Homo sapiens: one gene and its partner. The protein of the gene in region 1 purifies or fractionates together with the protein of each later gene. This does not show direct contact. Each region holds a gene or a part of one and is shown on either strand. Other genes may lie near its edges.

Region 1 (3,913 bases):
TGGGTGAGGACTTGATGCTCATAAAGCCAACGGGAGCAGCTTTTCACCGAAGACGGTCCAGGCCCTGGGAAGCTGCATCCACCAAAACCCACGATCCATCCCAGGACAGCAATGGCGCCACCTGGGCCGCTGGCATCTGCCCACACTGGGCTAGTCTGTAAGTGAGGGTCAGAGAAGCAAGAATTCCCAGCTCTTCCTTGGGCTCTGGGCTCCACCTCCTCCATCCATCTATGGACACTCCTGTAGGAACATCCACGGTACTCAACTCTTGTCTCCAGGTAATTTCCAGCCTGGGATTTTGAGAAGAGTTGACAGCTCTGCTGGTTTCTGAAAAACTTGGGAGAGTGGCAATGCACACATATGCACACACACACACACACACACACACACACACAGAGGCAGCAGACAGTGGAGGTGGGAGTCCGATGGTGCCCGGTGGCCATTAGCCCAGATGATGCCACACATGGCCAGTCACCATGGCCAGAGTCTTCACAGCAGCCGGTGCTGTGCAGAGCAGCAGGCCAGCTGGTTAGGATTTTCTGAATCGCACCTCGCTCTGAGGAAGAGAATGGGAGAAGAGGGTGAGGGTGGGCCAGGTGGGCGAGGAGCACAGAAGCCCAAGGTTGGGGTTCAGAACCTATAATTTAGCCTCGCTGTCACCTAGCACTGCCTCTCCAAGGAGGGAGAGCAAAGGGAAAGGATGGATGCAGGATTGGAGGGCCTCTCTGCACTAGATTTCTGGAGCCTTTTCTGCTCCCCCTATCTGAGCCCTCCCCTGTTCCCCAGGCAGAGAAGGGGAGGGCTGGCAGAGCACCCCCTGCTTTACAGCTAAAGGCTGAAGGCCCAGAGAAGGCAGGGTCTCAACTAGGTCAGCAGAGTTGCAGGCAGATCCCTGTTTCCTGACACCGAAATTCCTGCCGTGGAGGGAGGCCTCCCATCACTCCACTGCCAGCGGCCTGTGTGAACTCACATCTCGGTCATCCCTGGGAGAGGAGAGTGGCACTGGGGCTGGCACCGAGGTGAGGCCCACCTTTTATTCTTTTCATTTATTTGTTTATTCATTCATCCTTAATTTATAACAATAAATAGTAAATACCGAGGATATTCCAGGCATTGTAAATGGCTGATTTTGATAGATTAGTCAGAGTTCTTCAGTAAGAAAAATGGAAGATGAGAGGGTGGAAGTGGGAGAGGGGACTCTCTAGGGTGGATCAAGTATTCCAAAGGCCAAGGGCAAGGTAAGGCACACACTGAAGGGTCTGTGGTTCAGTTTGACCTGAGCAATGACTTCTGAGGTTGGATATAGGTTAAAGCAAGTCAAAAAACATAAAATAACTTTTTATTATTTTATTACTTTATACTCTTTTATGATAGTAGTGAGGTTCTGATGAAATATTTTAAGTGGGAAAGGGAAAGAATGGTAGTTCTCAGGGAGCATTCTGGTGACAGCTGTGAAAGTTGTCAGAGTTAAAATGGAGTCACTTGTGTTTTTAAAAAAAGACAACAACAACAACAAAAAGAAAATCAAAAAGACTAAAACAAACAGAGCTGGGAAAGGCCATGAAGAGCGGATTCCCATGCATAAATGCTTGATAACAAAAACTATCACAAAATCCTCTGCAGAAACTGAAACGTTTTCAAAGTCCATTGCAACCTTACACAAAAAAATACTTCTGGGAGAACATCTGCCCAGCAACTGCCTGCCTGGCCTGTAGGTCCACCCTTTTTCAACCCGCTGAGCTCTGTTCTGAGGGAAGAAAAGCAGGGAAAGAAACACAGACAGCTGGGATTGACCCCAGGCATCACATTTGACCCTGTCCAGAACACCCCCCGAATATGGGGACGCTGAGGGGACCTCTGCCTACAACCTGGGTGCTCCTCCAGGGTCCCCACCTGAGGAAGTTCCCAGCCTGCTGGGTGCAGTGTCCTGCTGCAGGGATCTTACCTCCATCTTGCTGTAAATCCAGGGAAGAACTTCTGTCACTTTGGTGTACACACCAGGTTTGTTTCTCTGGCCACAGCCTGTGCCCCAGCTGGTGACACCTGCCAGGTACCAGCGGTTGTTCTGCTCACAGACAAGAGGCCCCCCGCTGTCTCCCTGCAGGGGAGAGGGGGCACATTCGCAGGATGGGACAGGTGGTCCATGAGCGGGAAAGGGTGGGGTCCCAATTCCCACATCAGCCCCAACACCCCTGCCTCCCCCATCCCCAGGGTGCTGGGACCTGAGCCCCACCCACAGGTACCCTCACCTGGCAGGAGTCTCTGCCCCCACGAAGGTCCCCAGCACACATCATCCTTGGGGTAAGGTAACTGTCATAGACCAAGTAGTCATTGCATTTCTTGAAGTCGATGAGATTGACCTGCACCTCCCGGAGGAAGGGGGATGTCTTGTCTTCAGTGAAGTGGGGTGGAGGAGACAGAGGATGGGAAGCCAGTGAGATTCTAGATAGCTTCCTGGCCGTCCAGCTGCCACCCCAAGACCCAGAATCACAGCCTCCTGGGAATGGAGGGTGCCATGCCCGTGCCTGGCTCCCACCCAAGGGAGGCCCTCTGTGGTTGGACACCCAGGACATATGGGCACACACGCCCTCACACAAGACACAGCTCACTGCACGTGAGACAGAGACATCCATGCACACAGACACACTCACAAGCCTATCAGGCTACCCGACATGTTGCACAGCACTTGCCTACGTTCAAAGCACCCTCAGATACATGGCTTTGTTTGTTTTTGGAAGCTATGTGCCCTAAAGAGAGCAGGTGGCATTAATCCATTTACCGGTGGGGAGGCCTGGTGCTGGAGAAGTGACCTGCCCACAGTCACACAGCTAGTCAGGTATGGAGACAAGAGGAGAAGTAGGCTGCACCCACATCAGTCATTGCTCTGCCTCACGGAGGGAGGGAAAAGCGGTCCTGATGCATGGAAGTGGCCTGAGTCTAACCATGGGGTCATCCTGCTCAAAGTAAGCAATCTCACAGGACAAGGCACTCTGTGATTGGGATGACATGAAAACAAGACCACTTCATCATCTTGTTTAAGGCCAGACAAAAACAAGGTCACTGTGCAAACCACAACAGTACCAGACATCCCCCTCTCCTGGCCAATATGAGTGACTGCTGCTTCCTTACCACTTAGAGCTCCTAGATAAGATTATATATATATATATATATATATATATATATATATATATATATTCTTAATTGAGACGGGTTTCACTCTGTCACCCAGGCTAGAGTGCAGTGGCATGATCATGGCTCACTGTAGCCTCAACCTCCCTGGGATCAAGTGATCCTCCTGCCTCAGCCCCTCTCATAGCTGGGACTACAGGCACACATCACCATGCCCAGCTAATTTTTCTATTTTTTGTAGAGATGGGGTTTTGCCATGATGCCCAGGCTGGTCTTGAACTCCTGGGCTCAAGAGATTCTCCCACCTTGGCCTCCCAAAGTGCTGGGACTACAGGTGTAAGCTACGGTGCCCGGCCTCTAGATAAGATTATTAAGGTTCCCAATCATAACCCCTGCTTCCTGACACCACAATTTAGAGAAAAGTCCTGCGTCTTTGAACCCTCCCCAAGCCACCTAAATCCTACGAGCATTCCCTCTCTGACACCCTCTTGCTGAGATGCTCCATGGTTCTTCATGGTGTGTTCTCTCTCTCATTGCAATGAGCAATGAACTCAACTAGTTCAACCACAGCAGTTTTCCAGGTGGTCTTGATTGGAGGGCATTGTCACAGTGACTGCACCGGCATATACTCAGGTGTCTATACACACATAATCACACCCAGGCCCATGAATCCGTATACCCAAACGCTCATCGACATAGGCCTTCATCTGTATACCCAGACACATTGCTTACACACGCACATGTATACACACACATGCACATGAATACATACACACAACCAAGC
Region 2 (3,913 bases), on another chromosome or scaffold:
GACCAGCTGGAGTTGGGCCTGTGTGAAGCCAGTGATTTCCAACACACTGAAGAAGGTATCTGAGTCCAGTGTGAAAGCCAAATTCCTCCTGAATCTGTGATTTGGTGAAGCTCTGTGAGGTATTTTTTGTGTGTGGAAGACTGAAAGTGAAGGGAAACAACTAAAAAAATTAAACAGACAAAAGCAGTGTACCTTATCCTGGTTTCTTCAAACATAATGCCTGTGCCAAGAATTGGGCAGGAGAGAAACCAACGAAATGAATATAATAACTTATCCTGAGGCGCTCCCTCCCACGCTGGCTTAGAGATCTCGCACACACAAAAACTCTCCTTGTTTATAAGAAGCTGTCTCTCAGTATGCGGGCAGCTCTTCCCAAAAGCCCGTCATTAAATAAGCTAAAAACAGGTGCAAGCGATGTACCTGCATGGGTTCCTGAGACTTGCCTTGCAGAAGCGGCCTTCCAAGTCACCAACTCTTGAGAACTCCAGAGAAAAACAGCGCAAACACGTGGGCAAAAAAAAAAATCCTGGTGCCTGCACCAAGTTCTTCTCCCAAAGTATGTTTTACTCACATAGGGCAAATTTCTGTCGCGGACTCAGCTGCCTTTAGGAGAGTAAGGATTTGAAGGGGTACAGAGAATGCTGTCAGTGTCTAAGGAGGAAACCCTGCCTCACCTATTTCAAATCTTGACTCTGGTTTTCTAAGCAAATTTATCTTAGGATACAAAGCACACATTAGAGCTTCCTTCTTGCCTTAATGCAATTAAATTTGCAGCCATTCTGCAGAAGAACTGAAGCTCTCAGGTGAAAAGAAGCCTTAAATCATGCCATGATATATGTCGGGGGAGGGAACATTTGGGTATAGGTATTTTCCTGAAGGAAGAGAAAGGGTTGAATGTATTGGCAGCTGAGCTGTCCCTTCAAGGGGATATTGTGAAACAAGCTCAATAAAAACCTCTCCCTCTGAAGCATGAAATGTTCCCAGAGGGGACAGGAGGATTCCTTTGGTGCTATGATGCAACCTCAGGTCATGTGCTCGCACATGCTGGAGCATTTTCCTGAGTAACCTGAGGAAAATGTGGCAACAGAGAAAAGCACTTGGAAAATACACGCAGGAGGCAGGTAGTGTTCACCTCCCTGGTTAAAGGAAAGGCACCCCCCACATGCTCACAGGAACTCTCCCTCCTGCCCCTCCTCTTCCCCTACCCCACTTCCACCCCAGGGGCCACCGGAAGCAGCAGCAGCAACCCCGGCTCCTCATCCCCTGCCGTGATGTCTGCAAGTGGCTCTGGCTAGAAGTGGTGCTGGTGAAGGGCTGTAGATGAGGGTCTCTTCTCCAGCCTCTTCACGTGGCAGGAGTGACAGAACAGGTGGTCCTCCAGCGGATAACAGCGGTGGCCATCTTCATCATTGAGCTCCAGACCACAGTCCTGTGGGGAGGCAGACATGTCCAGGGGAAGCAAAACAAAACAGACTGCAAGACTGACCTGAAGGCCACAGTCCCCAAAATCAGCAGAGGGTGCTGTGTGTTTCTGTATAGGCAGGAAATGCCAGTGCAGAAACACAGCTCCTGCCCCGTGGAGGCCTGTCCAACACAGGAGACACTGCCACAAGGCACTTGCTGTGAACCACTTAAAATGTGCTGTCAGTGTAAATGCAGATTCCGAAGACTTAGGACAAAAAGAGGATGTAAAAATATCTCATGGGAAAAAGGAATGAGATCATGTCCTTTGCAGGGACATGGATGAAGCTGGAAGCCATCATTCTCAGCAAACTAACAAAGGAACAGAAAACTAAACACCACATGTTCTCACTCATAAGTGGGAGTTGAACAATGAGAACACATGGACACAGGGAGGGGAACAACACACACCAGGGCCTGTTGGGAGGTGGGGGTGAGGGGAGGGAACTTAGAGGATGGGACAATAGGTGCAGCAAACCACCCTGGCACACGTACAACATATATCTATGTAATAAATCTTCACACGTATCCCTTTTTTTTTTTTAGAAGAAATAAAATAAATTGTGGAGTTACAAAAAAAATCTCATGGGTAACTTTTTTATATTGATTACATGTTCAAAAGATAACATTTGGATTTTTTTTTCTTTTTTGAGACAGTCTCCCTCTGTTTTCTAGGCTGGAGTGCAGTGGTGCGATCTCAGCTCACTGCAACATCCACCTCCCCCGTTCAAGGAATTCTCCTGTCTCAGCCTCCCAAGTAGCTGGGATTATGCACGCGCCAACACATCTGGCTAATTTTTGTATTTTTAGTAGAGACAGGGTTTCACCATGTTGGCCAGGCTGGTCTTGAACTCCTGACCTCAAGTGATCTGCCCTCCCAAAGTGCTGGGATTACAGGCATGAGCCACCACGCCCAGCAGGATTTTTTACTTTTTTAAGACAGGGTCTTGCTGTGTCACCCAGAGTAGAGTGCAGTGACACGATCCTAGCTTCCTAAGTAGCTGAGACTATAGGCACAGCATGCCTGGCTAATTTTTGTATTTTTAGTAGAGACAGGGTCTCACTGTGTTGTCCATGCTGTTCTCAAACTCCTGGGCTCATGTGATCCCCCTGCCTCGGCCTTCCAAAGTGCTAAGATTACAGGCATGGGCCCATGCCTGGCTGGATATTTTGAACCGAATAAAATAATTAATCTCACCGGTTTCTTTTAACGTTTTAATTGTGACTACCAGAAAACTTAAAATGATACATGACTTTAATTTGTGGCTCTCATAATTCTTTAACGTTTTAATTGTGACTACCAGAAAACTTAAAATGATACATGACTTTAATTTGTGGCTCTCATAGTTCTTTCTTTTTTTGAGACGGAGTCTTGCTCTGTTGCCCAGGCTGGAGTGCAGTAGCATGATCTCAGGTCACTGCAACCTCCACTTCCCAGGTTCAAGCAATTCTCCTGTCTCAGCTTCCCGAGTAGCTGGGACTACAGGCGTGTGCCACCACGCCCACTAATCTTTGTATTTTTAGTAGAGATGGGTTTTTGCCATGTTGGCCAGGCTGGTCTCGAACTCCTGACCTCAAGTAATCTGCCGGCCTTGGCCTCCCAAAGTGCTGAGATTACAGGCGTGAGCTATCGCGCCCGGCCCCTTATATTTCTTTTGGATAGCACTGGTCTAGAAAATGTGGAGAGGCCTGTTGAGCAAATGTCCTCACCTTTTTCTCCTGCAGTGACCTGGGGCACCTGGGGTCCCAGCAGCAATGATTCCCACCCATTTCTTCAGTGTTGGCAGTGGGACAAGTCTATATGAGGGACACCCCCATTCTCTACCCACAGGGTCACCAAATGAATCTAATCTCCTTCCATGGGTGAATTCACTTAATTGTGGCTGAAATTCCATGGTCACCCTTCACAAGGGTTGGTGAGGGGCAACCTCTAGCTTTCCTGACAGTCATCAGGTACTAGTGCTCCTTCATCTTGGGTTGGGACAAAGGGCAGGAAGGGGCAGGCGGACCCCACCCGCCTTCACACCACCAGCTGACATGCCTGTTTCCAAGAGGGGCTTCATGATTTCCAGGGCTCAGCTGAGAAAGGAGCTTCAGGCAGATAGAACAGCCTGCAAGCTGGAGGGGAGGGAGTCCCTTCCCCAAATCGCACACCTGCCTGACAATGTGGCCCGCAGATAGGACCTGAAACCCATGCTCTCCACGACCCTCCTAGCTCTGCAGCTTCAGGGAGAGCAGCTCCAACAGTTGCAGGACTTGATAGTTCTGAATATGCAGAAGAAAGACCTTTATACCTTGAGCATTTCCATCTTCTCCTACCTCCCCCAAGAACCAGCCTTCATTCCATTTCCTACAGAAGCTCTAGAGGGCTGACCCTTGCCAGAATCTTGTTGACTGCCTCTTGCCCCAGTCAACGCAGGATGCTTTTCTCTTGGATGTCTACAATGGGCTT

Evidence for each region.
Region 2: the proteins of TMPRSS13 (region 1) and LIMD1 purify together in Homo sapiens (co-immunoprecipitation; 2 studies listed by BioGRID and IntAct, with this or other methods). This does not show direct contact.

Annotation. Positions count from the first base shown.
Region 1 is NC_000011.10:117,901,710-117,905,622, forward strand, and holds part of TMPRSS13 (transmembrane protease serine 13), read right to left. Parts: intron 2,393-3,913; coding exon 2,250-2,392; intron 2,099-2,249; coding exon 1,946-2,098; intron 1,743-1,945; coding exon of another isoform or gene 1,728-1,742; exon of another isoform or gene 1,333-1,727; intron 557-1,332; coding exon 530-556; 3' UTR 1-529. UniProt on the Homo sapiens protein: Serine protease. Cleaves the proform of PRSS8/prostasin to form the active protein. Cleaves the proform of HGF to form the active protein which promotes MAPK signaling.
Region 2 is NC_000003.12:45,674,438-45,678,350, reverse strand, and holds part of LIMD1 (LIM domain-containing protein 1), read right to left. Parts: intron 1,430-3,913; coding exon 1,292-1,429; 3' UTR 1-1,291. UniProt on the Homo sapiens protein: Adapter or scaffold protein which participates in the assembly of numerous protein complexes and is involved in several cellular processes such as cell fate determination, cytoskeletal organization, repression of gene transcription, cell-cell adhesion, cell differentiation, proliferation and migration.